2 separate regions of the Homo sapiens genome follow, and region 2 is linked to region 1. Evidence: fine-mapped expression QTL. A gene starts in region 1. The other region holds a variant in brackets. All regions are shown on one strand. Distances are from middle to middle.

Region 1 (16,497 bases):
TCATAAGTAGACAAAAAGGCAAACAAACAAAAAGACTAACAAACCAGATTTTTCATCATCTCTTATCCAAAAGAGAATAGATCTCTAAAAACTATTAATTCACTTAAAGAGATCACCAAATGTTCAGAATGTAAAACCTAGTTCCTAATTTTTTTTTTTTTTTCTGAATGAGGCAATGTATTAACCCAGCATGGTTTGTTCCAATGCTTCTTGTTGGCAGCTGCCACCTGTCCGGCAATTCTGCCCAGATCTCTCTGTCCCTGAGGTGTCAGTTTGCGGCCCCCATCTTGGTCCTTTTCCACCATTTTCAGCCCCTCCAGGGCTTGGAGGACCCGGCGGAGGACACTCTTGAAGCCTCGGCCGAAGTGGCTGGGCATGACGCCGTTTCTCTGACGTCCCCATAGATCTTGGTCATGGAGCCAACCCCAGCGCCACCCTGGAGGTACAGGTGCCGCGCTGTGGAACCGGCTCGTGTGTAGAACCAGTTCTCAACGTAGGGAGGAAGCTCTTTGTGCTTGGCCAGCTTGACGGTGTCCACCCATTCGGGGACTTTCAGCTTCCCGGACTTTTTGAGAAAGGCTGCCAGAGCTCTGACGAAGTCCCGCTGGTTCACGTGGTTTACAGGAACTCCAGGCATCGTGCGGCTTCCGCGCTGCCAGCCAGGGGAAAGGGAGCAACGGGGTTTCCCGCGAGTTCCTAATTGGTGTCGCCATTCATGGGGAAAAATCCGCCAGCTGTGGGCGAATCAGAAACAAAACCCAAAATCAGTAAGGAGGAGAAAGAAACCTAGGGAGAAAGTCAGCAACGCTGTAGTACTATTGCTACTTGGTATTCACTCCCGGAGCCAGGAAAAAATGTGCTTGGGCTTAGCCCCATGGGGTGTTCTTCAGTAATGTGGTTTACCTGGTTCTGTCAGGTGAATCCATTGGGATGTTGGTGAAAGCTTCAAAACTGTTAAAGTGTTTCAAAAGGTAAAATTATGGCCTTCATGCAAATATAAAATGAACATGTGCCAAAGATCTTACTTAACTCATTCATTGATTTTAATTAATCCCTACGACCAGGAGGGATGTTCAGACTGGTTCTAAGGAGAATTTGATTTATAGTGACATATTCTCTATCACACAAAATTGATTTGCATTGCTGTGGACAGGAATAGTTTTCATTGTTGTGGGCAGGGAACATTTGCATTACTATCTTCTATAAGTTAATTTCTATCTCTACAGAGTTGTAAAATAGCATACTCAAAGGCAGAGGTACATCCCTCCTACGGCAAATGACCCAGGGGATTTTTTGTTTTTGAAACGAAGTCTCGCTCTGTCGCCAGGCTGGAGTGCAGTGGCGCGATCTCAGTTCACTGCAACCTCCACATCCCGGCTTCAAGCGATTCTCCTGCCTCAGCCTCCCGAGTAGCTGGGACTATAGGTGCACACGACCATGCCTAGCTAATTTTTGTAATTTTAGTAGAGACAGGGTTTCACCATGTTGCCCAGAATGGTCTCGATCTCTTGACCTCATGATCTGCCCGCCTCGGCCTCCCAAAGTGCTGGGATTACAGGCATGAGCCACCACTCCCGGCCCCCAGAGAGTCTTTTAAAAATGCACAGCACTCCACAGAAAGTTCACCCAGTAACCTCTTTTGACTATTTCAAAATCTTTCATAATTTTTCTGACATATTATCATCATCTGTAGCCTGAGTCTAAATTCTTTTATTTATTTTATTTTATTATTATTATTTTGAGATGGAGTCTCTCTCTGTTGCCCAAGCTGGAGTGCAGTGGCACGATCTTGGCTCACTGCAACCTCTGCCCCTGGGTTCAAGCGATTCTCCTGCCTCAGTCTCGTGAGTGGCTGGGATTACAGGCGCAGGCCACCACACCTGGCTAATTTTTGTGTTTTTAGTAGGGGTTTCGCCATGTTGGCCAGGCCGGTGTCGAACTCCTGACCTCAGGTGATCTGCCCACCTCGGCCTCCCAAAGTGCTGGGATTACAGGTGTGAGCCACCACGCTCAGCCTAAATTCTGTATTTCTGGGTCAGACTTTTCTACCTAACATCCGATTCAAATATTCAGCAACCTGCTGGGTTCTTCAAAGTGTGTTTACTGTGCACTGGTTACCAATTCAGTTCACTGCATCTTGGGCTGTACTTCTACTACCTGCCCGAGTCTGGTGAGCCAGAACACTCACATACACAAGTTACATGAAGTGGATTTATTACTCACAGAGAAGCAGCAAGGGACAGCAGAAACCTAGGATTCAACATGAGCTGGTCTCTCAAGACTCAGGAAAGCCACACGGTGCAGATCGAGTCTCGTCTGTGCATGCCCACTTGTATTCTAGCTGGGAAAAGCCGTAAAAGCATTGAAGGACATCTTGTTTTTAGTGAGGCTAGAACACAGCCTGGGCTGTTCTGGCTATTTCCTCCTTATCTCAGAATACTATATTCCCAGCACATCGGAATTATTCTTCAGAACTATGAGCAAGAAAGTGGGGAGAACTGGGCCAGTCCAAGGCCGTCTGGAGAAATGTCCTGCAGATATCACTGGGTATGCTTGCACATCTCGATCTTAATATGTCCTAAACTGAATCCATCATCCCCCTGGCTCCCAGTGAACCTTCTGCCTCTTGTACATCTTCACTTGAAGATGCCATTCTTCTCCCAGTTACTGAGTCTATAAAGTAGGAAGTTATCCTTGGCTCCTCCTTATTTCTAACACCTCCACCTTGAAGGTGACACTGAATCACTTGGTCTTGTTAATTTGTTACTCTATTTCTCAATTTCATCTACTTGCTTAGTTCAGGCACTCATCCTCTGATTGGATTCCTGCAACAGTCTCTCGAATGATTGTTTTGCCCAAATTTTGCCCGATCTAAAAATCACATTGGTTGCTGGATAGACTTCTCTAAATCACATATCTGACCCTACTATTCTCTTGCTTAAAACCTTACATAATTTTCCCATCATTCACAGGATACAGTAGGGGCCCCTGTGCTACTCACGGGCCTCAATGATCTACAGATCTCAATCCTCCAGTAATGAACCACTGTCCTTCCCAGCCCACATGTGCTGTTTGTTGTTTCAGTGCCCTTTTGCATGCCTTCCTCTCTGCCAAGAACAGCCTCTTCACCTCCCTTCCTTTCCCAGGAGCTGCCATGTGTGCTTCAAGACTTTGAAGAAGGCTTCCATTGACCTCCTTTCTCCTCAAGGTGGCAAAACCAAAATTCAAACAAACAAGTAAACAAAAGCAGTGGCAGAAAGGAAAAGTAACCACAGAAGAGAGGAGAATAGATTTAGACCGTGAGTTTGAAGACTTAGAGACAAACTTCCCACAGAAAACATCCTGACCTGAAAAGAAAAATCCAGGCAGAGGAAGATTATTCAGCAGGAGGGCCTCAGTGGAGGGAGGGTGATCCCTTTAGAAGGAGGGCCTCAGTGGAGGGTGGAAGATCCCTTTAGAAGGAGGGCCTCAGTGGAGGGTGGAAGATCCCTTTAGAAGGAGGGCCTCAGTGGAGGGTGGGTGATCCCTTTAGAAGGAGGGCCTCAGTGGAGGGTGGGTGATCCCTTTAGAAGGAGGGCCTCAGTGGAGGGTGGGTGATCCCTTTAGAAAGAGTCAAACTGTCTCAGCAAGTTCTTGAGAACAACTTCTTCAATATTAGCAAATGAGGTACCAAATATAAAGGTGCATTTTCAGATTTTTAAAAATTCACAAAAATGGCCGGGAGCAGTGGCTCATGCCTGTAATCCCAGCACTTTGGGAGGCTGAGACGGGTGGATCACGAGGTCAGGAGATCGAGACCATCCAGGCTAACATGGTGAAACTCTGTCTCTACTAAAAAAAAAAATACAAAAAAAAATTTAGCTGGGCATGGTGGTGGGCGCCTGTAGTCCCAGCTACTCGGGAGGCTGAGGCAGGAGAATGGCGTGAACCCGGGAGGCAGAGCTTGCGGTGAGCCGAGATCGCGCCACTGCACTCCAGCCTGGGTGACTGAGCGAGACTTCATCTCAAAAAATAAAATGGACAAAAATGTTGGCTTTTAGCTTTGAAACTAAAACTGTTTCTTCTGTGATAATGATAAGCTCAGAAATTGTTTGTACAAGAGATAAAAAGTAGAAAACAAAACGGATATATGTAATTATAATCTTCTCAATTATTATTGGCATAAACAACCTAAGATGAGAGTTAATGTCACTGCCTTTTTTCTCCTTCTAGAAGAATGAGCTAACTAAATCTTAAGGGAAGCTAGATTGCTAGATCCTTTTTCAGCCCCCAGTTCCTGTTTAGGGAGTATCACTGCTTCTTGAACTAAAAACTACTAAGCAAACAACCAGTTGGTTATAGGAATGTCTCTGCTTGTTTTATGTTGACATTTTATTCCTTTTTTTTTTTTTGAGACAGAGTCTCACTGTGTCACCCACGCTAGAGTGCAGTGGCATGATCATAGCTCACTGCAGTCTCCCATGCTCAAGTGATCATTCTACCTTAGCCTGCTGAGTAGCTGGGACTACAGGTGTACACCACCGTGCCTGGCTAATTTAAAAAATTTTTGAAGACATGGAGTCTTGCCATGTTGCCCAGGCTAGTCTCAAACTCCTGGGCTCAAGCAATCCTCCCGCTTTAGCCTCCCAAAATGCTGGGATTACTATTTTTAAATTTGAAAGAGTTATATTGAGGTATAATTGATGTACCTTAAGCTGCACATATTTAAAATGTACAATTTATTAAGTTTTGACACCCATCACCACAATCGAGATAATAAACATATATATCACCCCCAAAAGTTTCATGTCCCTTTGTTAATGGTGGAGGGTGTCCAGTTTCTTAGCGTCTTGAACAAACAATTAGACGAAACGCACAAAGAAAGGAAGGAAAGAAGGGTTTCATTGAAAATGAAAGTACACTCTACATTATGGGAGCAGGCCTGAGCATAAGGCCTCAAAATCCCCATTATAGAATTTTTGAGCATTTAAATACCCTCTACTTGGGGTACACCCTATGTAAATGAAGAGGATGAAGTAAAGCTACAAAGTCATTTAGTTGGCCTACACCCTGTGAAGAGGATATTTCCTGTCATTACCGAAGTGTGAATCGGCCTTCTGTTCCCTGCCTCCAGACCCTATTTTCCTGGCTCATCTGCCCGCTGAGAGATGTGATCCCCATAAATCTTTATGGGAGGCAGAGGGACTGATGGTCTTTTTTCTGTAACTGCTTCATGCTGGCTTGGGGTGTAGTCCCTACCTACTGGTGATCATGGAACTCGCCCTGCTCTATCTAGTGGAGGCAGGGTAGTTTCTTGATGGCTAGGGGTGGTGTCTTCACCTGGAACTGGCTGGAACCTTTGTTGCATGATCATCTGAAGCTTGATGGTCTCCAGACGAGAGGAAATTAATTTGGTTAAAAGATTTAATGGGATGGCCGGGCGCGGTGGCTCACGCCTGTAATCCCAGCACTTTGGGAGGCCGAGGCGGGCGGATCACGAGGTCAGGAGATCGAGACCATCCTGGCTAACACGGTGAAACCCTGTCTCTACTAAAAATACAAAAAATTAGCCGGGCGAGGTGGCGGGCGCCTGTAGTCCCAGCTACTCCGGAGGCTGAGGCAGGAGAATGGCGTGAACCCCAGGGGGCGGAGCCTGCAGTGAGCCGAGATTGCGCCACTGCACTCCAGCCTGGGCGACAGCGAGACTCCGTCTCAAAAAAAAAAAAAAAAAAGATTTAATGGGAACTTCATGGGGTGGATACCTACGCTGTCAGAGATGTTTGTTATAGAGATTTGCAGAAAAAAAAACAAAACCTAGTCTGTTCTAGAATCTATGTTTCCTTGAAGTCTTAGCACAAGCAACTCCATTTTGGTTTGGTTTGGTTTGTTGGGGCCTAATGCATGAGCTTAGTCCAAAACAATGGCCTCGCAAAATTTTGTGCAAAAAATTCCCCCTTTTTGGTCAGGTTCTCACTTAGGTGAGAGTGTGACCAAAACTTAGGGCCTTAGCGCCACTCTCAGTTACCATCATTTTGGGTTTCGGTCTCAGCACATCATTTATAGGTTTTGGTGTTCTCATGGTTGCACATTTCTTTCAGCTTTTGTCATTCCAGTTGAAGAGAGAACATCTGACGTTCTAGAGATGACCGCGTGCAAACATTTAAAACCTTTGAGAGAATACAGCACACCAGGGAGACTATTATTATAAATATTGGGAGGATAACACCAAGAGTTCGGGGTATGCTCCTAAACCCAAGGCCCCGATAAACCAAACCTCCTAAAATCAAATAGATCAAAGAATGAGCTAGATAAAGGGTTTACTCACTTGACTAAGCAATTTCTTCGTTAATCCTCTACCACTGAATTTATTTTTTTCTTTTTTCCTTTTTTTTTTTTTTTAGACGGAGTCTTGCTCTGTCGCCCAGGTTGGAGTGCAGTGGCACAGTCTTGGTTCACTGCAACCTCTGCCTTCCGGGTTCAAGCAATTCTCTTGCCTCAGCTTCCTGAGTAGCTGCGATTACAGGCACCTGCCACCACGCCTAGCTAATTTTTGTATTTTTAGTAGAGATGGGGTTTTGCCATGTTGGCCAGGCTGATCTTGAACTCCTGACCTCAGGTGATCTGCCTGCCTCGGACTCCTAAAGTGCTGGGATTACAGGTGTAAGCCACCGCGCCCAGCCAATGAGGGATACATTTCTAATCATTGCTTCTTTTACTTCAAACCATGGTAAAAGGACCTAACAAATGATGCCTTTCTAGAAGAGTGAAGGCCTACTGGCAATGTTTTCTTTAACCCATGATGTGGGTTAGAGGAGTGAACCAATGTTTTGTTTTTGACTGATTATGAAGCAATGCATGTACCATTAAAGTTTCTTACCTACTTCGGGCCTTCATCTTTTATCTATCAAAGTCTAAGTTTATCCATGTATAAGGCTGGCTGCAAACTCCTTCACAAATAAAAGTATACCCCATAAGTGCACATAACAGACCCCTTTTCCACTTCTATTGTTTGTAGAGGCATAAGGAAGACAAAAAATATTGAAAGATAAGAGTTTCATGGTAGTAGAAGTCTTAATCTGTGAACTTGGGAAAAGCTGTTCACATCAAGGATGCCATTTTCTTCTTGGGAGAAATTTCCCAGGGTAGCTTTACCTCAAAAGTTCCAATGGGTGCACTGTTCCAAAAGTGTGGAGGGACCGTTCTCATTTGCGAGACCATGAACCCAAAGCCCAAGGTCCTGAAGTTTTGTTGTAGTGTGGATGACAAGGACAGTCTTCTCCAATGTTTCCAGAAAATTCAAACCATAAAAAGCTTTCTTTACCGGGGGAAAATACACTGTAGCATAATAATCTACTGTTATAACATCAGCCCTCTTGCATGGGAAAGCTTTTATACAACCAGAATGACAAATTGGAATTCAAATAACAATTGAATGAAATCCCCTTACAAAATGTTTAAATGGCCCACCCGGTGACCAAATGTACATGAAGCTTTGTTTGTCTTCCCAGGAATATGGGACTAAGCATTGGTTATAAACTATTTTAAACAATTTCAGTATCAGCTGGTTTAATATGAAAATCTGACGAAGTATTTTCTTGGTATTTAATTAAATTTTTGCTTGTTTTACTTGGGTTAGTAGCTTTATGCAAGGAAATTTCATTCAAAGCAATGAAAAACAACAACCAGGGCTGATACTGACTACTAAAAACTGTTTTAAACTCAGAAGGAAAAATAATATGGATTTCAGGCGTTCCCAGGTTATAAATGGGTTTTCTGCATGTTTGAAACCAAAAACAAACTTTCCTATAGAAATATCAGTAAATCTAGCAAAGAAATAACACACCCCAACCGTGTCATAGCCTGTCTTAAATAAGGGAAAAACATGAGAGCACTAGTAAGAGGCAAGTAAAGGGTGCTTTGCTTTACAATTGATGGAAGCTCGCAGGCTTTGTTCTTGGCTGCCCCACGCAGCCAGCGGAAGGCAGGCCAAGGAGGAAAGAGCCCGGCCTCCCAGGTCCCCGCAACTACAACTCCCAGGATGCCGCGGCGCAGGCTCCCTGCGGGAGCAGGCTGGGCTCAGCTCCGCTGGACCCGCGCTGGGGAACTCTGGCCTCGCTGCACTCATGGCTTCTCCTAGCAAGGCAGTGATTGTTCCCGGGAACGGAGGCGGGGATGTGACCACCCACGGCTGGTATGGCTGGGTGAAAAAGGAGCTGGAGAAGGTAAGCGCCCAACGCCGCTGCTCCGTGAAGTCAGCCTGGAGGGAGGGACGGCGGGAGAGGACTGAGGGCTGAAGTTTGAATAGGCGTCTAATCCCCTCTAGCAAAGCCCTGTGTGTTTTCCTGCCTCTCCCCCGCTGCCTTCTCTTAAAGTCTGAGCTAGTGGTCGAATTTTGACTGGTAAAACTGCCTGGAAGACTTCTCTGAGGGCTCAGCCTTTAGAGTTAAAGGAACCCCTTTGAACTACCGAGGCTGAGCCCCTGAGCCCCGCCCCCCGTATCTGCTGCTGGTTCAGATTTGGGACTTCCCAGATAATTTTACATGTTCACTGCTTCCCGCTTCAGCTTTTAAAAAATTAAATATGCTATACTTAATATATACAAAGGATATACGTAACATGCGTCTACATTATGAGGCATAATGTAATGAATTACCAAACTAAAACCTGGGACATTGCCTATACATCATCTTCCAAACGACCCTTATGTCTACCCATCTCAGTCCCGTGCCATCCTGAATTTTTTCATCTGCTTCTCTTTTTAAAATTGAAGTACTTTTCAACCTATGAATATACCTTTTAAACAACAGACTGTTCTATTTGGCTTCTTGGTGAGCTTTATAAAAGTGGCATCTTACTGTAGGCTGACCTGTGCCGTTTGATTTTTATTTTTTAACCCTCTTCTGTAACCAGGCGGTAAGTCGGCTCCCTGGGTTGCTGTCCTCTAGAGCGGGTCTCCAGAATAGATTGCAGCGCTGTGGCTGAAAACCCTGGTCAGAGTTACAACCCCAAAGGTCAGGGCTGGAGCTTCTGAGAGTATGCTGTCTCCAAATTTCTGTATCACGTTCCTGTGCCACGTTTTACCTACTCCCTGGAACACAGTCTATTTGGCTCCAGGTCAGTCTGTCTAGAACACATTTGTTCATGCCTCTCTATAGATGCAGGCCTGTAGAGGCAAATATGGGTGTACAAATGCAGATATAGGTCTCTCTATAGAGATCAGCAGAGCTGCCTAGATACAGAACTACAGATGGAGTTCATGCGAAAAGATGGTCACTTAACCTACTTCATTTCATAACACAAGTTAATACTGAATTGGTAACGATCATATCAGGTGCCTCATTTCTTATTAGCAAAGTATTAGTTGTAATTAAGCTCTTTATTATAGCTTTTTCTCCCCCCTCATATCATAGATACCTGGTTTCCAGTGTTTGGCTAAAAACATGCCCGACCCAAGTAAGTTTTAAACTTGTTTTTAAATAGCCTCATCTTGTTGGGTTTTGATATTACCATTTTTGTGGTAGAGAACAAGAATATCATAGTGGAGGAACCAAAGATGCCTATATACCTAAGAAAGAATAAGGCAAGCAGCTTGGGGAGGAGGGTGTGAACCAAAAGCCATAGAAAATTCTTTTTTTTTTTTTTTTTTCAATTCTGTGAATTTGTCATTTTTATTTATTTATTTATTTATTTATTTATTTATTTATTTATTGATCATTCTTGGGTGTTTCTCGCAGAGGGGGATTTGGCAGGGTCACAGGACAATAGTGGAGGGAAGGTCAGCAGATAAACAAGTGAACAACGGTCTCTGGTTTTCCTAGGCAGAGGACCCTGCGGCCTTCCGCAGTGTTTGCGTCCCTGGGTACTTGAGATTAGGGAGTGGTGATGACTCTTAACGAGCATGCTGCCTTCAAGCATCTGTTTAACAAAGCACATCTTGCACCGCCCTTAATCCATTTAACCCTGAGTGGACACAGCACATGTTTCAGAGAGCACAGGGTTGGGGGTAAGGTCACAGATCAACAGGATCCCAAGGCAGAAGAATTTTTCTTAGTACAGAACAAAATGAAAAGTCTCCCATGTCTACCTCTTTCTACACAGACACGGCAACCATCCGATTTCTCAATCTTTTCCCCACCTTTCCCCCCTTTCTATTCCACAAAACTGCCATTGTCATCATGGCCCGTTCTCAATGAGCTGTTGGGTACACCTCCCAGACGGGGTGGTGGCCGGACAGAGGGGCTCCTCACTTCCCAGTAGGGGCGGCCGGGCAGAGGCGCCCCTCACCTCCCGGATGGGGTAAGCCATAGAAAATTCTAGTAAGGATTAGGAAAGCACCTGGGCATGGTAAAATTTAATTTTCAACTTTGCACCAACTTGATTTTTCCCTTCTATATGTCTACAAATATTTTCAGGCAGAATTTGTGGGTACTATACTTGAGGCATAGGTATAAAACTTTACAGCATCTATTTGAGGTCCTAATGTTTAAAAATGTCATATTGCTACTTTTGTTCTGGGTATGCCTATGACTTGTCTCAGGAATCCCCTTTTTGGAAAGAATGAATAAATGTGAATTTTAGAATGTTGCAAGAGTTTTTTTGCTTTTTTTTTTGAGATGGAGTCTCGCTCTGTTGCCCAGGCCAGAGTGCTGTGGCGTGATGTTGGCTCACTGCAACCTCTGCCTCCTGGGTTCAAGTGATTCTCCTGTGTCAGCCTCCCAAGTAGCTGGGATTACAGGCATGCGCCATCACGCCTGGCTAATTTTTTTTGTATTTTTAGCAGAGACGGGGTTTCAGCATTTGGGCAGGCTGGTCTCGAACTCCTGACCTCAAATGATCTGTCCACCTCAGCCTCCCAAAGTGTTGGGATTATAGGTGTGAACCACTGCACCTGACCATTAGCTTTTTTTTTCAAGTTTGAAAGTTTACATTAAAATTTCAGAGTTATATTTTATTATTTCCTTAGTATTTTCTTACAAGAACATGGTAAACCAAAAAAAAAAAAAAAAAAGAGAAAAGAAAAACTAGTTACCAAAACTGTGGACTTGGATCTTTCAAGTAGTAATACATAAATCTTTGGTTTTGTTAATACAGTCTGGTCTCCTGCTGTGGTCCTGCAGTTTTAAAAGTTGTGAACTGCTGAATAGTTGCCTGTTTGAAAGGTGGGGCAGCGTTGGATTCAGACTGCCACTATCAAATGACAGACTTTTTCTTTACCCTGAACCTTAAGTTACAGCACGAGAGAGCATCTGGCTGCCCTTCATGGAGACAGAGCTGCACTGTGATGAGAAGACTATCATCATTGGCCACAGTTCTGGGGCCATCGCGGCCATGAGGTGCGATCTTTGTTAAACTGCTATCCCCTTTGTGGGCTCCAGTCATGCTTGCTTGAGAAATACCTTGCGTATATCTTAAATTTCTGTTGCAGAGGAAACAGTGCTGACCTCTAAAGTGGTAACATAATCTGTCCTAATTCCTTCCTGGTTTTGCTAGTGGATTGAAAGAAAACAAAAAATCTGCTCTTATTGAGATGCAGTGATCCTTTTAAAGCATAAGTGGCTGCAAACCCCAGTAGCTTCCCATCAGTCAGCTCTGATTCTGTCTCTACAGACTCTCCTTCTCTCCTCCCAGCCAGGTTTACTGACCTCATTGCAGTTCCTGGAACATGCCAAGTACATGCACATCTTAGCCTGCTCTCATCCTTCTACCTGGGATACTCTGGCCCTAGACACTGCATGGCTTTCTATTCCCCTTGAAGTGTCTGCTCAAATGTCCCCTTTTGGTGAAGCCTTCTCTAATCACTCCATATGAAATGGCTTCCTCACTCTACTGGCTCCTATCTCTTTTATATCTTATTATCTGCAGCACTTTTTACCATCTGACATCCTGTTTATTTCTTGTCTGTCTCCTGCCAATAGAATGTAGACTCCATGAAGGCAGGGCTTTGTTCACTCTGGCACTGAAACCCCATTGCCTAGAAGAGAGCCTGGCATATGGTAGATTGTGTCTGCAGTGTTACTCACCTGCGAATCCCCAGTCCTTAGGATTCGTATGCACATCCCTACTGCTCTCATTAGAATATTACATCTCCCCTTTTAGCCTTATAAGGCCTAGTGGGTAGGGACTTAGCTGGCTGAATAAGCTAAGTTTAGCCTATAAGGGTTGAGTTTCTTTCATATTTGCTAGGCAAAATGACAAAGGATAATAGTTTTTATTTGTCCCAAGCAGTCACTTAGGCTGTCACATGAATTGCATGTCAGGGAATCTTGCCAAATTTCATAACCTTTCAGCCACACTGATTAAAGTTACAAGAGTATTTCAGGATGGAACCACAAAATTATGGTACACTCCCAGTGTAAGAATGTTATATGCTGCCAGGGGTTGTCTGGAAAAGGAAGAGCTCCTTGTATTATTGAATTCTGTTCCAACTCAAGGCCAACTGCATTTTTCTCAAGCCATTGATTAGTAAAGGTGTGCCTGCTTTTAAAGATCCTTGAACTCACTGCAGGATTCTTAGCAACCTTCTAAGAATTGACTTCTAAAGTTAAGGGAGGCAAGGAGAAAAATGGATGCCAAAACGATTGGGTTAAGGTTGTAGAATTTCCTATTGACAAAATCATAGAGGACTACCCTACAGATGACTCTAATCATGAAAGGGAAATCGTGCCTTTCCAATGGAGAAATCAGGTGGATATCACTTTAAGCAAATGATCAAACTTAATCTCACCAATAATAGACTGGCATCATGTGTCCCCTGATGTAATGGCATGGGAAGGACACAGCATCACCTATGCAGTATCCTTGCCAGAAATGTTTACCTCAGTCTAGTTAGGAGGAAACAGACAATCCTATTTAGAGGATAATGTACAAGACAACTGGCCTACACTCTTAAACAATGTTAATGTCATTTAAAACAAAAAAATTTTAAAGTGACTGAAGAGCCATGAAAATAAAATGCAATGCATAATCCTTGACTAGATCTAGGATTGCAGAATGTTTTAAAGGACATTTTTGGTACAGTTGGGGAAAAATGAATACAGATAATATTGCTGTATCAATGTGAAATTTATTGGGTGTAATAGTGGTACCATGGTTAAGGGAGTGGCTTTCTCAGGAGATACATGCTAAAGTACGGGTGAAATGTGACAAAATTAATGAATCTAGGTGCTTGTTCTTTTTTTTTTTTTTTTTTTTTTTGAGACAGAGCCTCCCTCTGTTGCCCGGGCTGGAGTGCAGTGGCACAATATCGGCTCACTGCAACCTCTGCCTCCCAGGTTCAAGCAATTCTCCTGTCTTAGCCTCCCGAGTAGCTGAGACTACAGGCGCCTGCCACCACACCTGGCTAATTTTTGTATTTTTAGTAGAGACGGGGCTTCACCATATTGGTCAGGCTGGTCTTGAACTCCTGACCTCAGGTGATCTGCCTGCCTTGGCCTCACAAAGTGCTGGGATTACAGGTGTGAGCCACCGTGCCCGGCCTAGGTGCTTGTTCTTTCAACGTTTCTGTAGGTTTGATATTTTTCAAAATAAATGGGGAAAAAAGTTCAGGCCCAAGAACAAAATACCAACCCTAACTCTTTCTTGGCACAAAGGCCCCTTGAAATTATTACTACTATGTGTCTTTCCTTATCCCAGTCTTTGCTGAGGGAGACTGCTCTCTGCAAATATAACTGTGGTTTTTGCCAATAAAGGAGACTCACTCTACTGGCTCCTATCCTCTTTATATCTTATTATCTGTAGTACTTTTCACCTAGATCTAGTCAATCCTAGATCTAGTCAAGGATTATGCATTGCATCTGACATCCTGTTTATTTCTTGTCTGTCTCCTGCTTACTTTTAATGGCAAAAACTGCAATTACTTTTGTACCAACCTAAGAGTTAGCTGGGTGTCTACTTGCCAGGCACTGTAATGGGCACCAGGAACACAAAGATCAATAGGACTCATGCCTGCCTTTAAGGAGCTGACAATTTATTGAGAGAAATGTACATAAGACAACACAAATGAATAATATAAGGCAATGTGGAGTGTGTGGTAACAAAGGTACATTTCTGGTATTATACAGTGTTTCTTAAAATACAGTTCACAGACCACTTGCATTAGAGTCATCTGGGTTGAAGGAGGGATCACGCCTTAAAATGCAGATTCTAGGCCTTAATGCCAACTTTCTGAATCAGAGACTCTGGGTCTGAGCCTGAGAATCTGCATGTTCACCAACCAAGTGACACTGATGCATACTAAACGTGGATGGATTACACATTTTTTGTTTATTGGGAAAGGTTTGTACAAGTTTCAACTACCTTGAAAAATGGGTAGTGGCTGGGCGTGGTGGCTCACGCCTGTAATCCCAGCACTTTAGGAGGCCGGGGTGAGTGGATTATTTGAGGTCAGGAGTTCAAGACCAGCCTGGCCAACATGGTGAAACCCCGTCTCTACTAAAAATACAAAATTAGCTGGGCGTGGTGGTGCATGCCTGTTATCCCAGCTACTCAGGAGGCTAAAACAGGAGAATTGTTTGAACCCAGGAGGTGGAGGTTGCAGTGAGCCAAGATTGTGCCACTGCACTCCAGCCTGGGTGACAGAGTGAGACTCTGTCTCAAAAAAAAAAAAAAAGAAAAATGAGTAGAAGCTCATCCAGTAGCCAGGGTTGGGCTTATAGTTCTGCAGTTTCCTTGCCATTTTTCACATCAACCTCAACAGCAGGTAGCACGTGCTTTCTGTAGGCTACCTCAAATGAGTTTTTAAGTAGTTTATTGACTTTTTGGTGATCAGAGGTAACATTATATATTAGCTGACATCATTTTTGTTTCTCCAGGTATGCAGAAACACATCGAGTATATGCTATTGTATTAGTGTCTGCGTACACATCAGACTTGGGGGATGAAAATGAGCGTGCAAGTGGTAAGTCCAAAGGTAGAAATCTGAGCAAAGCCCTTCTCTAGACATGGGGCTGTCTGTTTAGGTTGTAAAAACAGTGCTGTCTTTCAGATAGGCTAAAAAATTCTAATAGCATATGAGAAAGATATACCACCTATCTTTGGATATAAGTTTGCACTTTGATTTCTTCCCAAGCTGTAAGTCTAGAACTGAACCCTAGAGGCCTGGTTTTAGTTGAACCATATACCACCTCTTCACGAGTAACTGTGGTATCAAGCCCTACAGATTTGAAAACAAAAGAAGTGCTTCTAACTCACACGGAGGCTCTGCTCCTTTGCGTCTCTATGTGGGTCGCCAGTAGGTATTTTAGAATATCTAGAAGGGAGATTATCCATGGGTACTGAAAGATCATTTTTTTTTCCCCATAGGATACTTCACCCGCCCCTGGCAGTGGGAGAAGATCAAGGCCAACTGCCCTTACATTGTGCAGTTTGGCTCTACTGACGACCCGTTCCTTCCCTGGAAGGAACAACAAGAAGTGGCCGATAGGTTGGAAACCAAATTGCACAAATTCACTGACTGTGGCCACTTTCAGAACACAGAGTTTCATGAACTGATTACTGTTGTAAAGTCTTTGCTGAAAGTACCAGCATAGACTGTATGATTTCTGCTATTTTGCATCCCAATATAGGAGTAGAATAATATCTACTATCAGCTGATTACTAGACACATAGAACATCCAGTTAAGTTCCGTAAGTGCCTGAAAAACAAACACAAGTTTCAACATTCAATCTAAGTTACAAATAGCACTTCCATTTTCCATAGACTCTAAAACTCCCCAAATTGCTATGAACTACCACAGTATTTTCCTCATTTGATAAGAAACATAAGGACAGCTTAACTACCCTTCTCTATCCGAAGTGAGTCAGAAACAGAACCCAGGTTTCTTGATTCCCACTCCTGAGTAAAATTAAATAGGTTTTATGTATGTTGCAGGTATTGCACACTTTTCCTCTTTGAAATCAAACTTTTCTATTTCACTGGGGAAAGAAAACATGACTGAAAGTCCAGAGTGTTAGCTTAGAGCTCAAAATACTAGCTGCTGTTTCAAGCTGGCCCCAGACATTAAACTCAGACTAGGGCCTTCACCTCTGACACTTGCCCCTAAGTCCTTCAGACATGTTGAGAGAGACTGAGACAGGAGTCTTCCGGAGTCAGGCAGGAAGGAGAAGCACAGCAATATACATTCATAATATACGTACAACTGACTAGATTTGTTTGAGACAAGAGTGGTGGGATCAGAGCCATGTGGAGAGCTCATGGCCTGTCTAAATTGTTGCCATGTGGAAATGGGGCAGAGTGTTGCCAATTTTCTGATTTTTTGTGTGGAAAAAAATCTCCAAATTGTAGTTTTTAAATTTGGGGAATGCAAATATATATATATATACACACACACACACACACATACACATACAATCCATATACATATGGAGTATGTAAGTTGGCAATAACAGTATACATCAAAAAATTTACAAACACTGCAAGACAAATAAAATCCAAGCCATCCATTTGTGACCACAGTCATAAGCATTCACTTAGCCAGGGGCTTTTAGATAATTGTCTGTGAAGTCTGAGAAAAGACTAAG
Region 2 (16,497 bases), 41 kb before region 1:
TTTGTTATACTGTCCAAACTTTTGACACTATGGAAAGAAAATACCAAAAAACAAACAAACACACACAAAAAGAGAGAGAAAAATCTAAGTTAGCATTACCTGGAAATATTCCTGGACTAAGCTACATCCAGTCTGAACTCTGCCACTTACTATAAGTCCTAGACTAGCACTTCTCAAGCATCAGTGAGCAGGCAAATGACCAGGGGATCTTGTTAAAATGCAGACTCTAGGGAGGAGCTGAAGATTCTGCATCTCTAATCAGCTCTCAGGCAATGCTGGCCTGAGGACTGCCCTAACCAGAGAAGCTAGGTGAGCTCTTCCAGGCACCTGTTCCATATGAAAACCCTCTAACACCATGAAAACTAACAATTATAGTTACGCTTTGATGTTCTCTCACACTAAAACTCAAATTTATTTCTCCCAATGGCAGACTTCTGAACCACAATGTTTTCTCTTCCCGCCTTTATTTCTGCTCACACATTTCTGGTCACTAAAGAATTGGACTGTTCATCATTTAAAGAAACCCCATTTCTAACAATTACTTTCTTCCCACAAAATCTGGTGTCCTTCCGCAGTTCTCGTCTTCTTGAACTTCCTAGCAGCATGAGCCAGGTGACTGCCCAAATGTCTCGAAACTTTCTCCTTCAGCTGCTAATACATCACTTTCCTATTTCTCATAATCTCTCCAACCAACCCTTTTCTGCCTTCTTCAATGGTTTTGTCTTCCTCCTCCCCCTAACTGTGGACTCCTTGGGGGTTAGTTCTTGGCCCCCTCCTCCCATCCTCACTGCTTTGGGTACAAATGAACACTAGAGCCAGATGGGTGTCATCCAAATCCACCCTCCAGTGTCCAGTGCTGACCTATAGCCTGAGCCCCAGTCAGGACATCCACCCAAATATGGGAGTTTTCGTGAGACACACTTTTGCAAGTTCACATTCAATTATCAAAAATTATCAAAAATAAACTATTACATTAAAAAAAGAGAAAAAACTTTCTCCCACCCTAAAGTTGCTCTCCTTTCCCATCTTCTACCTCAACACCACTCATGCAGTTACCCATGTGTGAAATGTCATTCAGTGCTGACTTTTTGGTTTTTGACTTTACACAGAATCATTTCATCAAGTTTTATCAATTCTTTCAGTTTACATCCTGATTTCAAACCTTCTGCTTCCTCCATCTCTCCTGCCACTATGCTGGTCTCAGTGCCATTGAGCCTGAAAAATCCTCCATTCACAACAATAGCCTTTTCTCTCTGCAATGTGCCTCACATGGTGATATTAAATGTAAACACAAGCATCATGCTGACATCAAACCCCCGCTTAACAATCACAGCCACGTCTCCCTTGCTCCCTAAAGTTAAGGAGCTCCCCAATCAAGGTGTACCTTCCCTGACTCTGTTCCCCACTGCACAACCTAGCCTCCTGTGACACTGGTTTCTCCAAAGTCCTCAGCATAAGCTAAAAGACCCAGCTAGCTCCTGCAGGCTCATTCCTGCTAGCCCTCCACTCAGCAAGCCTTGCCTTCCCTTCTCCAATTAATTCTGTAATAAAAACCTGACTCAAGGCTCATTTCCACAGGAAGTCTTTGTTAGCCACCTGGGCCCTCTGCTTATCTATCCTCCCTCTGAAATCCTAAAGAAGCAATTTTCAAATTATGTTTGAAATGTTGACACTTCCTGAAAAATGGTTCCATGAGATGGCAAGGGCAAATAGAGGGCTGAACAAAATGAAACAGGTTTCCCTACTGGGCCTTTCCATGGTGGCTTTGATCACAAACACATGCTGTGACTCTCCAGGAAGGTAAGATTATCATGTGCCAATTATTGATTTATTGCCTTGTGCTGGCTCCAAACTCACCCCCTTTGCCTGCTGTGAAATGGACATGGGCCCTTTCACTACCTCTCCTTTGCCAGCTGGCACGATATCAAGCGTTGTCAGTAGAGAGTGCTGGAGGTGAGCGTCAGCTTTGGGCGCCCGAGTGCTCATTCAGCAGCTTCCCGGGTGCCAGGTCCTGCTGCACCGTGGCTCCCCAGTGCTGAGCTCCTGGAGAACATGGCAGCCAGCAGCTAAGCAGCATCCCTGCATGTCTCCAGTGAGACATTTTCCTATACACAGCTTTCCCTGGCACCCTGGAGGGTGGATTTTCTTCAAATTCTAGAAAGTGAATTTCTAGTAAGTTCCCCTGGCACAGCACCACGGTAACTTCTCTGCAAAAGACTCACCAAGCCATGGCCATGCCCTCCCAACTAGGTCTGGATCAGCCCTGGGGAGAAGGGCACTTCCTTTGGTGCTCTATCTCAGCCCCACAAGTAGTGGCTGCCCACTTCTCTATACTTCCTTCTAGCCAGTCCCTCACTGTTCTACTCTCTTGTTGTATTCTTTATAAAAGACTTTCCCCATTTAAATTACAGTGTGACTTCTCTCATCTCATTAAATCCAGACTGATAAAAGGCATCTCCCTAAACTTACCAGGCTGGATCCCTATTTCCAAAACCACTTTCCAGATTTAGAAGAAAAATACAAGACCAGAGCATTCACAAAATGACTCATCTAAGTCAACTCAACCCACACAGATTTGTATCACTCTCCAAATGCTCCATGCGTGTTGTTTCTTCCCAACTATAATGTAAATCTCTGAGGGGAAAATGCACATTTAACACGTCTTTAACAGAATGTCCAGCGTGCAGCATAAGGTAGGCAACTGATAAATTCTTGCTGATTCACTATATAATAATAATTAAGTGACAATTTTCTTCTCGAAAGTAAAGCAGAAACCAAGACTGAACCTAATGCCACTGTCCCCAATTTACCAGTCGGATGAGTTGTCGGTCCAGCCACCGGAGCACATCGGGCCCCTCCTCTGACTCCGCTCGGAACACCCCAAGCCGTGCCATCAACACTGCCGCAGCCTCCTGGTCAAATGCTGCTTCTATGTGCCTGAGCTGACTCTGTACATCTGCCCAACTGACAATTCCAGAGTTAGTGCCATGCTTATGTTTAGGAGAGATCAGAAAGCCAGACATCCATTCAGAAAAAGAAACACAGGCTAGGTGCAGTGGCTCATTCCTGAAATCCCAACACTTTGGGAGGGCAAGGTGGCAGGACTGCTTGAGCCTAGAAGTTCAAGACCAGCCTGGGCAACAATGTGAGATCACCATCTCTCTGCATAAAAGTAAAAAGATTAGCTAGTTTTGGTGGCAGGTGCCTGTGGTCCCAGCTACCTGGGAGGCTGAAGTGGGAGGATCACTTGAGCATGGGAGGTTGAGGCTGTGGTGAGCTGTGATTGTGCCACTGTACTCCAGCTTGGGCAACAGAGCGAGACTGTCTCCAGATGATAATAATAATAATTAATACTTTTAATGAACTATATTTCCTACAGAAAGATGATTCCTCTAGGCAAGTGTTCATAGGCCCAACTGGGTTAGCCAAAAATGCCTCCTCCTCTGATCAAATAAGCTAATGAGGTCTGGTGAGAACCATTCAATGGAATCAAAAAGACAAACTAACAAATGTTAAAGTATCTCTTCAAGGGAAAAATGTCAGTCAGTTCCTCAACAGAAAGGAAACTGGGGCTGCTTACTTTCGGGCGATGGTGGTCACGCGGATGCGTCTCTGGGTGCTGGAGTGCTGATAATGCGTGACAAACTGGATGGCTCCTCTGCCTCCTTGGGGGATCGGGGTGTTGTGCTGTAGGATGAGAGGCCATAACCTTGTCTGTTATAGGCGCAACTCAAACACGGTCACAGAGCCCACTGTACTCTTCTAAAATGACTGACACAGCAATGACAGGAAGGTTCTTGACACATTTTGAAGGGCACACTTAGGATTTGCACATTTCACTGCATATAACCTTATCTCCAAAAAAGTTGAAGAACTACGTTCAATACTGAACTTAAGTTAATGATACACCTACTGAAGTGTTTAGGCATGAAATACATGGATGACTGAGGCTTGTTTTGAAATGCAGCAAAACGAAGATGGATTGATGAATCACAAACTGGATGAGTTATTGCTGATGAATTATCCAGTTTGTGACGGATTGTTAATCATTAAACAAACACAGACATGCCTCATTTATTTGCAGATTTTTTAACAAATTGAAGATTTGTGGCAATCGTACATCAAGCAAGACTATTGGCGCAAGTTTTCTAACATCATGTGCTCACTTCATGTCTCTGTGTCACAGTTCAGTAATTCTCACAATATTTCCAACTTTTTCATTATTATTATATATCTGCTATGGTGATCTGTGATCAGTGATCTTTGATGTTACCATTTTAATTGTTTTGGGGTGCTACAAACTGCACTGATATAAGATGGCAAACTTAACTGATAAATGTTGTGTATATTCTGTTGCTCCACTGACTGACCTTTCCCTCATCTCTCTCCTCCTCCTTGGGCCTCCCCTATTTCCTGAGATACAACAATATTGAAATGAGGCCAGTTAATAACCCTACAATGCCCTCTAAGTGTTCAAGTGAAAGGAAGAGTCACACATCTCTCATTTTAAATCAAAAGCTAAAACTCATTAATCTTAGTAGGGAAGGTATGTTGAAAGCCAAGATAGCTGAAAGCTAGGCCTTTTGCCCCAAAACTGCCAAGCTGTGAATGCAAAGAAAAAGTTCTTGAAGGAAATTAAAAGTGAACACGTGAATGATAAGAAAGTGAAACAGCCTTATTGCTGATGTGGAGAATGTTTTAGTAGTCTGAATAGAAAATCAAACCAGATACAACATTCCCTTAAGCCAGGGCCTAATCCAGAGCAAGGTCCCAACTCTCTTCAATTTATGAAGGTGGAGAGAGGTAAGGAAGCTGCAGGAGAAAGCTGGAAGCTGGCAGAGGTTGGTTCCTGAGGTTTAGGGAAAGAAGCCATCTCCATAACATAATGGCACAAGGTGAAGCAGCATGTGCTGATGTAGAAACTGCTGCAAGTTATTCAGATTAGCTAAGATCACTGATGAAGGTGGTGGCTACACTAAACCACAGATTTTCAGTGTAGTTGGAAGAAGATGCTATCTAGGATTCTCATAGCTAGAGAGAAGTCAATGCCTGGCTTTAAAGCTTCAAAGGGCAGGTTGACTCTCTTGTTAGGATCTAATGCAGCTGGTGACTCTATTTGGTTTTTCTAAGACAGGTTCTTGCTCTGTCACCCAGGCTGGAGTGGAATGGCATGATCTCAGCTCACTGCAACCTCGGCTTCCCAGGCTCAAGAGATTCTCCCACCTCAGCTTCCCAGGTAGTTGGGACTACAGGCGTACACCACCACATCTGGCTAATTTCTGTATTTTTGGTAGAGATGAGGCCTCACAGCATTGCCCAGGCTGGTCTTGAGCTCCTGAGATCAAGCAATCCACCCACCTTGGCCTCCCAAAGTGCTGGGATTACAGGTGTGAGCCACCATACCTGGGCATCTGGTGACTTTAAGTTGAAGCCAATGCTCATTTACCATTCCAAGTATCCTAGGACTCTTAAGAATTGTGCTCAATCTACGCTTCCTGTGCTCTACAAAAGGAACAACAAAGCCTGGATGACAGCACATCTGTGTACAGCAATTACTAAATATTTAAAGCCCACTGTTGAGACCTGCTGCTCAGGAAAAAAAAGACTCCTTTCAAAATATTACTGCTCACTGACAATGCACCTGGTCACTCAAGAGCTCTGACGGAGATATAAAGGAGATAAACGTTTTCATGCCTGCTAACACAACATCCGTTCTGCATCCCATGAATCAAGGAGAAATTTTGACTTTCAAGTCTTAAATTTAAGAAACACATTTCATAAGACTATAACTGCCATACCTAGTGATTCCTGGGATGGATCTGGGCAAAGAAAATGAAGAATCTTCTGAAAAGGATTCACCATTCTACATGTCATTGAAACACTCATCATTCATGGGAAGAGGTCAAAATATCAACTTTCACAGGAGTTTGGAAGTTTACTCCAGTTCTTATAATTTTGAGGGGTTTGAGACTTCAGTGGAGGAAGTCACTGAAGATGTGGTGGAAGGAGCAAGATAACTAGAATTAGAAGTGGATCCTCAGCTGGGCATAGTGGCTTACGCCTGTAATCCCAGCACTTTGGAGGCCAAGGCAGGCGGATCACCTGAGGTCGGGAGTTCAAGACCAGCCAGGACAACACGGTGAAACCCCGTCTCTACTAAAAATACAAAAATTAGGTGGGTGTGGTGGCAGACACCTGTAATCCCAGCTACTCGGGAGGCTGAGGCAGCAGAATTGCTTGACCCCGGGAGGCAGAGGTTGCAGTGAGCTGAGATGGTGCCACTGCACTCCAGCCTGAGCAACAGAGCAAGACTCCATCTCAAAAAAAAAAAAAAAAAGTGGATCCTGGCTGGGTGTGGTGGCTCACGCCTGTAATCCCAGCACTTTGGGAGGCCAAGGTGGCTTAAGCCCAGGAGTTTGAGACCAGTCTGGGCAACAAAGAGAGACCCCATCTCTTTTTTTTTTTTTTTTTTTGAGACGGAGTCTTGCTCTGTCGCCCAGGCTGGAGTGCAGTGGCGCAATCTTGGCTCACTGCAACCTCCGCCTCCTGGGTTCATGCCATTCTCCTGCCTCAGTCTCCCAAGTAGCTGGGACTATAGGCACCCGCCACCACACCCAGCTAATTTTGTTTTTTGTATTTTTAGTAGAGATGGGGTTTCACCATGTTAGCCAGGATGGTCTCAATCTCTTGACCTCGTGATCCACCTGCCCTGGCCTCCCAAAGTGCTGGGATTACAGGCGTGAGCCACCGCACCCGGCCTTTTTTTTTTTTTAGACGGAGTCTTGCTCTGTCTCCCAGGCTGGAGTGCAGTGGCGCAATCTCGGCTCACTGCAACCTCCATCACTTGGTTTAAGCAATTCTCCTGCCTCAGCCTCCTGAGTAGCTG[G/C]GATTATAGGTGTGCACCACGATGCGTGGCTAATTTTTTTTTTTTTTGTATTTTTAGTAGAGACGGGGTTTCACCATGTTGTTCAGGCTGGTCTCGAACTCCTGACCTCGTGATCCACCTGCCTCAATCTCCCAAAATGCTGGGATTACAGGCGGGAGCCATCACACCCGGCCTATTTTTTTTAATTAAAAAGATGAAGAAGCGGATCCTGAAGATGGGACTGAATTGCTACAATTTCATGATAAAACTTTAATGGATATGGAGTTGCTTCTTATGCATAAGCAAAGAAAGTCATTTGTTGAGATGGAATCTACTCCTCATGCAGATGCTGTGACACTGTTGAAATGACAAGATTTACAATATTACATAAACTTAGTTGATAAAGCAGCAGCAAAGTTTAAGAGAATTGATTCCATTTTTTAAAGAAGTTCTACTGTGGGTAAAAAGCTATCAAACAACACTGCATGCTACAGAGAAATCTTTCCTGGAAGGAAGAGTCGACTGATGCAGCAAATTTCATTGTTGCCTTATTTCAAGAAATTCCGGCCAGGCATGGTGGCTCACGCCTGTAATCCCAGCACTTTGGAAGGCAGAGACGTGCGGATCACGAGGTCAGGAGATCGAGACCATCCTGGCTAACAGGGTGAAACCCCGTCTCTACTAAAAATACAAAAAAAAAATTAGCTGGGCGTGGTGGCGGGTGCCTGTAGTCCCAGCTACTCGGGAGGCTGAGGCAGGAGAATGGCGTGAACCCAGGAGGCGAAGCTTGCAGTGAGCCAAGATCATGCCACTGCACTCCAGCCTGGGGTACAGAGCGAGACCCCGTCTCAAAAAAAAAAAAAAAAAAGAAATTCCCAGGTGGGGCGTGGTAGCTCACACCTGTAATTCCAACACTTTGGGAGCTGAGGCAGGCAGATCACTTGAGGTCAGTTCAAGACCAGCCTGGCCATTGTGGCAAAACCTTGTCTCTGCTAAAAATACAAAAACTAGCCAGACATGGTGGCTGGCACCTGTAAGCCTAGCTACTCGGGAGGCTGGGGTGGGAGAATGGCTTGAACCTGTGAGGTGGAGGTTGCAGTGAGCCAAGACCGTGCCTGGGTGATAGATCGTGCCTGGGTGATAGAACAAGACTTTGTCTTAATTAAAAAAAAAACAAAAAGAGAAGAAACTGCCACAGCCACTCAGCCTTCAGCAACTACTAACCTGATCAGTCAGCAGCCAACAACATCAATGTAAGACCTTCCACCAGCAAAAGAGTATGACTCACTAAAGGATCAGATGAGCATTAACATTTTTGAGCAATATAGTTGACCCTTGAGCAACACAGGTTTTTTTATTTATTTATTTATTTTTTATTATTATTATACTTTAAGTTTTAGGGTACATGTGCACAATGTGCAGGTTAGTTACATATGTATACATGTGCCATGCTGGTGTGCTGTACCCATTAACTCATCATTTAGCATTAGTTATATCTCCTAATGTTATTCCTCCCCCCTTCCCCCACCCCACAACAGTCCCCAGAGTGTGATGTTCCCCTTCCTGTGTCCATGTGTTCTCAATGTCCAATTCCCACCTATGAGTGAGAACATGCGGTGTTTTTTTGTCCTTGCGATAGTTTACTGAGAATGATGATTTCCAATTTCATCCATGTCCCTACAAAGGACATGAACTCATCGTTTTTTATGGCTGCATAGTATTCCATGGTGTATATGTGCCACATTTTCTTAATCCAGTCTATCATTGTTGGACATTTGGGTTGGTTCCAAGTCTTTACTATTGTGAATAGAGCCACAATAAACATACGTGTGCATGTGTCTTTATAGCAGCATGATTTATAGTCCTTTGGGTATATACCCAGTAATGGGATGGCTGGGTCAAATGGTATTTCTAGTTCTAGATCCCTGAGGAATCGCCACACTGACTTCCACAAGGATTGAACTAGTTTACAGTCCACCAACAGTGTAAAAGTGTTCCTATTTCTCCACATCCTCTCCAGCACCTGTTGTTTCCTGACTTTTTAATGATGAGTAACACAGGTTTGAACTGTACAGGTCCACTTATATGTGGATTTTCTTCTGCCTCTGCCACCCAAGACTGCAAGACCAAACCCTCCTCTTCCTCCTCCTCCTCAGCCTACTGAACATGAAGATGAGAGTATGAAGACTTTGTGATGTTCATTTCCACTTAACAAATAGTAAATACACTTTCCTTCCCTTATGATTTTCTTAATAACATTCTCTTTTCTCTAGCTTACTTTATTGTAAGAATACAGGACATAATATATATTACTTACAAAATATGTGTTAATCAACTGTTATCGGTCAGGTTCCCAGTCAACAGTGGACTACTAGTAGTTAAGTTTTGGGGGAGTTAAAGTTATATGTGGATTTTTTTTTTTTTTTGAGATGGAGTCTCGCTCTGTTGCCCAGGCTGGAGTGCAGTGGCACGATCTTGGCTCACTGCAAGCTCTGCCTCCTGGGTTCACGCCATTCTCCTGCCTCAGCCTCCCAAGTAGCTGGGACTACAGGCACCCACCAACACACCTGGCTAAATTTTTGTATTTTTAGTAGAGACAGGGTTTCACCATATTAGCCAGGATGGTCTCGATCTCCTGACCTCATGATCCGCCCGCCTCGGCCTCCCAAAGTGCTGGGATTACAGGCGTGAGCCACAGCACCCGGCCGTTATATGTGGATTTTTAACTATGCAGTGTCAGCACCCCAACACTACTCAAGGGTCAACTGTAAAGTATTTTTTTAATCCAAGAATGAACAATGTTTTCAAAGACATAATGCTATTTAACACTTAACATACTATAGTGCAAACATAACTTTTATATGCAATAGGAAACCAAAATATTCATGTGACTTGCTTTATTGCAATATTCACTTTATTGTGGTAGTCTGGAACTGAACCCACAGTATTTCCAAGGTATGCCAGTAGAGTAAAATGTTAATTACAGAATCAAGTTGATGGGTTCACCTAGGTAGTACGTGTTCACCGTACAATTCTTTCAATTTTTCTGTATGTTTGGAATTTTTCATAATAAAATATTAGGGAAAGAACCGATGCACTAAAAAATTCACCAACATTATGATGACTGGTAAAATCTATTACACTTCTAATGACCTTATCAGTTCAACAATAAAAGGACAAAAGTAATTTGTTGCCTGACTCCGACTAAACCCTTGAAGGAATAAATAAGAAAAGGTCATGCCAGACTATCATCAGGCCTAATACAATACCCAAGGAATATTGGTTTGTGAAGAAAGTAACCAGAGACCACTGGTTTGAGATAAATCACAAAACAGGACACTAAGACATGAAGACATGTGAAGAAATCCAACTCACCTGATTGACAACTTCAAAATAGATGCCAAGTGTAGATGTAGGATCTAGGCCACAGATTTTCCACTGACTCGTGCCACCAACACCAAGCTCCTGGGGGTGGGAAGAGGAATTTGAAAAACAAAACCAGAAAACCATCCCTGTGGTTAATTGCTAATGAAAAGTACTGACTGAGTAGGGCAGGCTACTTAGAGTATCTTCTTTTAGGAGAACATTTAAGTTGAAATAAAACCTTCTCCTGAAAAGAGAACAGATGAAGGCTTAACATTTACATTTACACTTTAAAATTAAGCTTTTTATATTAACATTCTGACCAATTTTTATTACATCATATATACTATACATATATATTATTTATGTTTATTTATTTTGAGATGGTCTCTCACTCTGTTGCCCAGGCTGGAGTGCCGTGACACAATCACAGCTCACTGCAGCCTCGACCTCCTGGGTTCAAGCAATCCTCCCGCCTCAGCCTCCCAAAGTGTTGGGATTACAGGTGTGACCCATCGTTCCGGGTTTACACATATACTACGTGTGTGTGGGGGGGGGTGGGTGTGTCAGGGGGTGTCTCTACATGGTATATAACGCTGAAATCCACAAAGAATCAATCAAGTCAGACTCTTAAGAAAGACCCTTAAGGTGAAATCACACAGCAGCTCTAAGGTGGAGAGCGGAGAGGGTGCACTCTGTTCTGTCAGTACTCCCTAAGCTAGATAATAAGATAGATGGATTCACGGGGGTTCACCTTCCTTGTAGTGGCCTTTTCTAAAGGAAGCAGGTGTTTATTATCTGCTGGAAGGTGAAGAGCTGTGCTCAGGAAAAAGGCAAAGAAGTCAAAGGAGCATTCATGCCTCCCCTTCTTGCCTTGCTAACCCCATTCTAAGCACCAGACCCAGGACGGCTCCTCTAGAGCTCCAAAATATCATTTTCTCACTGATACACAAATTCCTTACTTAAACATTTGCTCTTTAGATGCCTTTATTGGAGAAACGATAAAGACAATTAGGAAATGACCATTTTATAATCCCCAAAGAAATAAACTGATTTGCATGAAGATCAATGGATGCTAAAAACCATTAGGCTGTTGGCAAACAAGAGTTTCATATTGTGCTACACACTCTCATTCAAAAGATTGCCTGCTAATGGCAAAGGGGGAAGTGTTCCCTTACAGTAGAAAGGCAGTGGGGCAGTTACCACCATCACCAAGCGATCTAACTCAGCACATGTAACACGGGACAGCAGACATAGTGCCTCTGGATGTGACACAAGCATAAAGTACACACTGCCCAGGAACAATGCTTGGCAAAAAGGCTTTGCCTGAATGTAAACACACCTTTAACCCAGACTCTCACTTTACAAAGGCTGTAATATCAAATGCAATGCCAGTTGGGGTAAAAACAGCTACAAAGGGCATTTGGGGGGAAATTAGGAAAAAAATATGAACTAGATATTAGGAAATTATTATTTTCTTAAGTTTGATAATGACATCGTGGTAGGAGAACATCGTTATTTTTAGAAGATGCATACTGACGTGCTTAAGGACTGTCATGATATCTGCAAATTATTTTCAAAGGTCGGCAAAAAAAAAGTTGATAAATCAAATGTGGCAAATAAATGAAAATCAGATAAAGCAAATGTGGCAAACAAGACAACAGAGCAATTATGGCAAAATGTTAACAATCAATGACTAAATGGTAGGTATAGAAATTCATCACTCAGTATGTCTGAAAATTGTATTTTCCTATTCTTTGCATCCTCATTCCCCAAACAAAACTTTCATGGCTGAATTCTACTAGAAATATTAATTAGTTTGTACTAATTCATAAAAATACCTTCTTAAACTACTTCAAGAAGCCTTCAGCAGGCAGATTTTAAGTCCATGAAAAATATTTTATAACAAGGCAGCCTTCCAAAGCCTTGCCAGGAAATAGGGGTACAAGCCCCTTAGTACTCTGGGGGTAATGAATGACTCATCAGATGGGCTTTAGGGCAGCAATCTGCCTCACTCAGAAGGCTACAGGAATGTGCTCTCAAATCACCTTGCCTCTGCCAAGCTCAACAAAAGTTTAATTTATGTGGTCACCCAAGAACGTTTGTTGCTGACAACATGAAAGAAGACCCACACTTCCAGTGTGCCAGGCACTAACTGCTTCACCTGAACCAACTCATTTAAACCTCCTAACAATGCTGTAGAGTGGGCACTGTTATTATCCCCATTTGCCAGATAAGGATACTGAATCACAGAGCAAATAAGTCCTTTGCTCGGGCCAGGTGCGGGGTGTAAACCTGCACCTTGGATCCACATCTGGCTCTATGGTCTACCCTCCCATTGATGGTGACAATGAGGGAAGAACATGACTGTGTAACCCCAGCCCAGGACCACCTTAGAGAGGCCTTGCCAAACCGAATGGTTTGCCTCCTAGCAAGTAAAGTATAATCAGAGGAAGTGGACAATAAGCAAAGCCGCTCATCTCAAATGATAACTAAATTGTTCTCAAAAACTATTACTAGAGAAAACAGATGTCTGCACACACAGCAGTGTCACCCACTTCCACACCAACTCATGGTGGTCTCTGTTGTAAAAGGCTTGTTATTAGCTGAGTGAGACAAACGTATCACCTCTAAGGGCAATGAGCAATAGGCTTACTCTGGAAGGACTGTGCTGAATGTTTGCCTTGTGCTGAACAGCATGCCGTGGCTTTGGCACAACGACCATGGGTGGTGGAGTCAGGGGCACCTGGGCTCTAACTCCTTCATGTCAGTTCTGACCCTGAGCAAGATACTGAACCTTTCTGGGCCTCAGTTTCCTTCTCTCTAACCCTTTGGATGAACAGATGGAATAACACCACCTCTCCGAGTATAGTCATCAGTGAGGGTTAGCCCTTCTCCTGTCACTGCAGACACATCCAACAGGTGACACATGTGAGATCATCATGCTCTGACACTTCTGACGGGTTAAATCCGGGGCAGGAGGTGAGGGTGATGGAGTTGTTTTCCTTACATTTTCTGACACACACGGTCCTTTCACATTCAGAGATACGCATGGACCAATGGCTCCTGCAATCTTCAGTTCCCGAGAGGTCTATAACAAATATGTGACAGTGTAAAGTTAAAGATCACTTCAATCCACCCTGCTGTCATCATGGCCACAATGAAAGCTTAGAGGGAAAATATAACACTACTATTCTGCCAAGAGAAAACTCCACAGGGATCATAACTGCTTAGTCCTACAAACTTTTCCTCAGCCACTGTGATTAGAACTTTAATAAAATCCACCCTTAGAAACACTTGAAACATGAGCATTTTCAACTCTCACAACTTACTTTTTAAACTTGGAAATTACTGTACATGTAGATAACAATTCTAACAATACTACATTCTTTTCCAATCCCTTGTATGAATATATTCACATTCATGTATATCCATAATTATTTGCATATACCTAATCAGAGAACATACTGTTTTGTGTTGCTTTAAAAATACTTAATTCATGAACTCCAATATAACGACAAGGCCAACATACTTAGATTTTTAAAATGTGAATTCATTTCAAAAGTCCATCTTTAAAAGAAAACCCTCAAGCATTTAAGATTATGGTTTAAAGTCTAACCTAGATGATTTAATAATTATCTCTAATTCTCCAAGTAATAATTCCAATCGTATCTTCTAATGACGGCCCCTGACCTGCCCCGCCAACTGGCAACTCTGTTGCCCAGGCTGAGTGCAGTGGCATGATCATAGCTCACTGCAGCCTCAAACTCCTGGGCACATGTGATTTTCCCGCCTCAGCCTCCTGAGTAGCTGGAACCACAGGTGTGCACCACCACACGAGGTTAATTTTTTTTTTTTTAAATCATTTGTAGACACAGGGTCTTGCTATGTTGCCCAGGCTGGTCTGTAATTCCAAAGCTCATGCAATCACCCCACCTTGGCCTCCCAAAGTGCTGGGATTACAGACATGAGCCACCGTGCCTGGCCTAACACCCTCTTTTAATGCTTTCTCAATGACTTAGAATCAGCTGTATCAGGGCCATGAGTCCCTACATGGGAAAAAAAAAATCTCAAAATGCTGTCTTTTTTTTTTTTTTTTTTTGAGACAGTTTCACTCGTTGCCACAGCTGGAGTGCAATGGCAGGATTTTGGCTCACCGCAACCTCCGCCTCCTACGTACAAGCCATTCTCCTGCCTCAGCCTCCCAAGTAGCTGGGGCTACAGGCATGTGCCACCACGCCCGGCTAGTTTTGTATTTTTAGGAGAGATGGGGTTTCTCCCTGTTGGTCAGGCTGGTCTCGAACTCCCAACCTCAGGTGATCCGCCCACCTCGGCCTGCCAAAGTGCTGGGATTACAAGCATGAGCCACCATGCCTGGCCCAGTGCTATTTTAGAGTACTTTGGCTATTCTTCAGGAAGACATTAAACATAACCACGTCTCTGTGCAATGCAGTGAGCCATGCTGATGGCTGGGTGGATGCAGACCACCGTGTGGCTGCCCCTGTCCTCAGGCCACAGTGCTGCTCATAACACCCACCCTACTTCCTCTTCTATCTCCTACTGCCTTGAAGCAGGGTGGAGCAGAGCCTGAGGGTGAACCAGGCAGCTTGTTACTTAGAACATAAATAAATATATAGGTCATCCTCAAGAAGCAAAGGGATAAAGTGAATAACATGCTTTTAATAGCCATTTGGTTGAGATCCTTTTAATTGGCTTTTACATGCCCATGTCCAGCAGGTGGAGGTTGCCAGAAGTCTGGATATTGATTGAAAAAGTAAGAACACTATAATTTCATTGAAGTTTTAAAAGTATGGCCAGGTACAGTGGCTCATGCCTCATAATCCCAGCACTTTAGGACGCTGAGGCGGGAAAATTGCCTGAGACCAGGAGTTTGAGACCAGCCTGGGCAGTACAGTGAGTCCACATAAAAAAAAAAAAAAGTTTACCGTACCTTTACGTCCAAAGTAGCACCAAATGCCATTCGGAAATCTCCATTAAAATCTTTAGTAAAGATTCTTTGGAATGTCTGCTTGAAGAGAGAAGTGTTGAAAGAATCTCCCATTACCATGTAGCCTCTAGGTAAGAAGAAAAAAATCAAGTGAATATTAGGAAGATTGAAAGCCATTCAGATGCTCCCTCAGTATTTACAAAAATAATTTAAAGAAAAAAAGAAACCAGGTCCCCAAAAGAGCCACTGATTAATTTAAATATAAAAAAACAGGCCAGGCACAGTGGCTCACGCCTGTAATCCCAGCACTTTGGGAGGCCAAGGAGGGCGGATCACTTGCGGTCAGGAGTTCAAGACCAGCCTAGCCAACATCGTGAAACCCCATCTCTGCTAAAAACACAAAGATTAGTAGCCACAATCCCAGCTACTCAGGAGGCTGAGGCAGGAGAATCACTTGAACCCAGGAGGCAGAGGTTGCAGCGAACCAAGATCGGACCACTGCACTCCAGCCTGGGCGACAGAGCAAGACTGTTTCTCAAACAAAAAAAAAATTAATAAATAAGTAAATAAATAATAAAATAAATTAAAAAAATAAAAACAGCATGTTAAATTCATACTTGGCAAAGAAACTACTTCTAAAGCATTAAACAGAAGCCTTAAGAACAGCTCTAATTCCTCTCACAGTTCTTTGGTATGGGAAAATACCCAGGCCTGTGGGAAATCCTTTTCAGGTTAATTTACTGCCTCAAAATACTGAATTCTTGACTTTACAAGAATTATGTTTTCCAACTCATGAGTATTAATATTAATCCCTTACTGAAGTTAGAGGAAAACATTGTGCAAAATGTCAGCATTTCATGCATTTGGACAGAAAAGCACAGCTTGACGCAAGTTATGCCTCCAAACGTCATTCATAAAACAAGATCTCAGAATCTTGAAGAACACAAGAAAGATCATCTGGTCCGGCCATCTCAGAGTGCCTGAACCGTCTGTCAGCTCTTTGGCACCAAATATCTACCTCTTCCTTAGTTTCCTGGAACAATGACATTTTCCAGCCTGCCTTGCCTATGGCCATGTGCCTCTGTTGGCATGTGCGTTCTGACTATTGCTGTGTCCTTTATATGTGGAGTGTGTTCCTCCAGGAAGAGCAATCCTTCTCTGACCTTTCCTCCTTCCTGCTGCTGTAAATGGCTAGAGCTCCAGCAACTGTCTTGAGCCACAGATGGCATATGAATGGTGGTAGAGCAGCTTAGTAGGAGCCTCAGCCCGTAATGATGACGAAAGCAACATACCAGCCCCGGACTGCCTACCGCCAGAGAAA

Direction of the effects. Alleles are on the strand shown, and positions count from the first base shown. SD is a standard deviation of normalised expression in the study named.
As copies of C replace G in region 2, the expression in fibroblasts of the gene that starts at base 8,045 in region 1 goes down (moderate effect, 0.44 SD a copy in GTEx).

The links. PIP is the estimated chance that this variant, and not a neighbour inherited with it, causes the effect. A credible set is the group of variants that fine-mapping cannot tell apart.
Region 2: its variant is the best candidate, but not a certain one, in a credible set for the expression of RBBP9 in fibroblasts (GTEx, PIP 0.78).

The regions. Positions count from the first base shown.
Region 1 is chr20:18,488,773-18,505,269 of GRCh38, reverse strand. RBBP9 (RB binding protein 9, serine hydrolase) reads left to right here and starts at 8,045. Exons shown (of 5, transcript NM_006606.3): 1 at 8,045-8,201; 2 at 9,390-9,432; 3 at 11,207-11,312; 4 at 14,790-14,875; 5 at 15,280-16,497. The coding sequence starts at 8,103. The coding sequence ends at 15,506. It also overlaps the pseudogene RPS19P1. RefSeq lists enhancers at 7,883-7,942, 8,043-8,092, 7,696-8,260, 8,113-8,272, 8,443-8,492.
Region 2 is chr20:18,529,486-18,545,982 of GRCh38, reverse strand. SEC23B (SEC23 homolog B, COPII component) reads right to left here. Exons shown (of 20, transcript NM_006363.6): 10 at 15,180-15,303; 11 at 13,239-13,319; 12 at 10,241-10,330; 13 at 3,581-3,687; 14 at 2,811-2,964; 15 at 1-27. Among named protein-coding and RNA genes, the nearest start is that of SMIM26, 30 kb to the left of the region's middle. The variant G/C (reference allele first, on the strand shown) is at 6,887.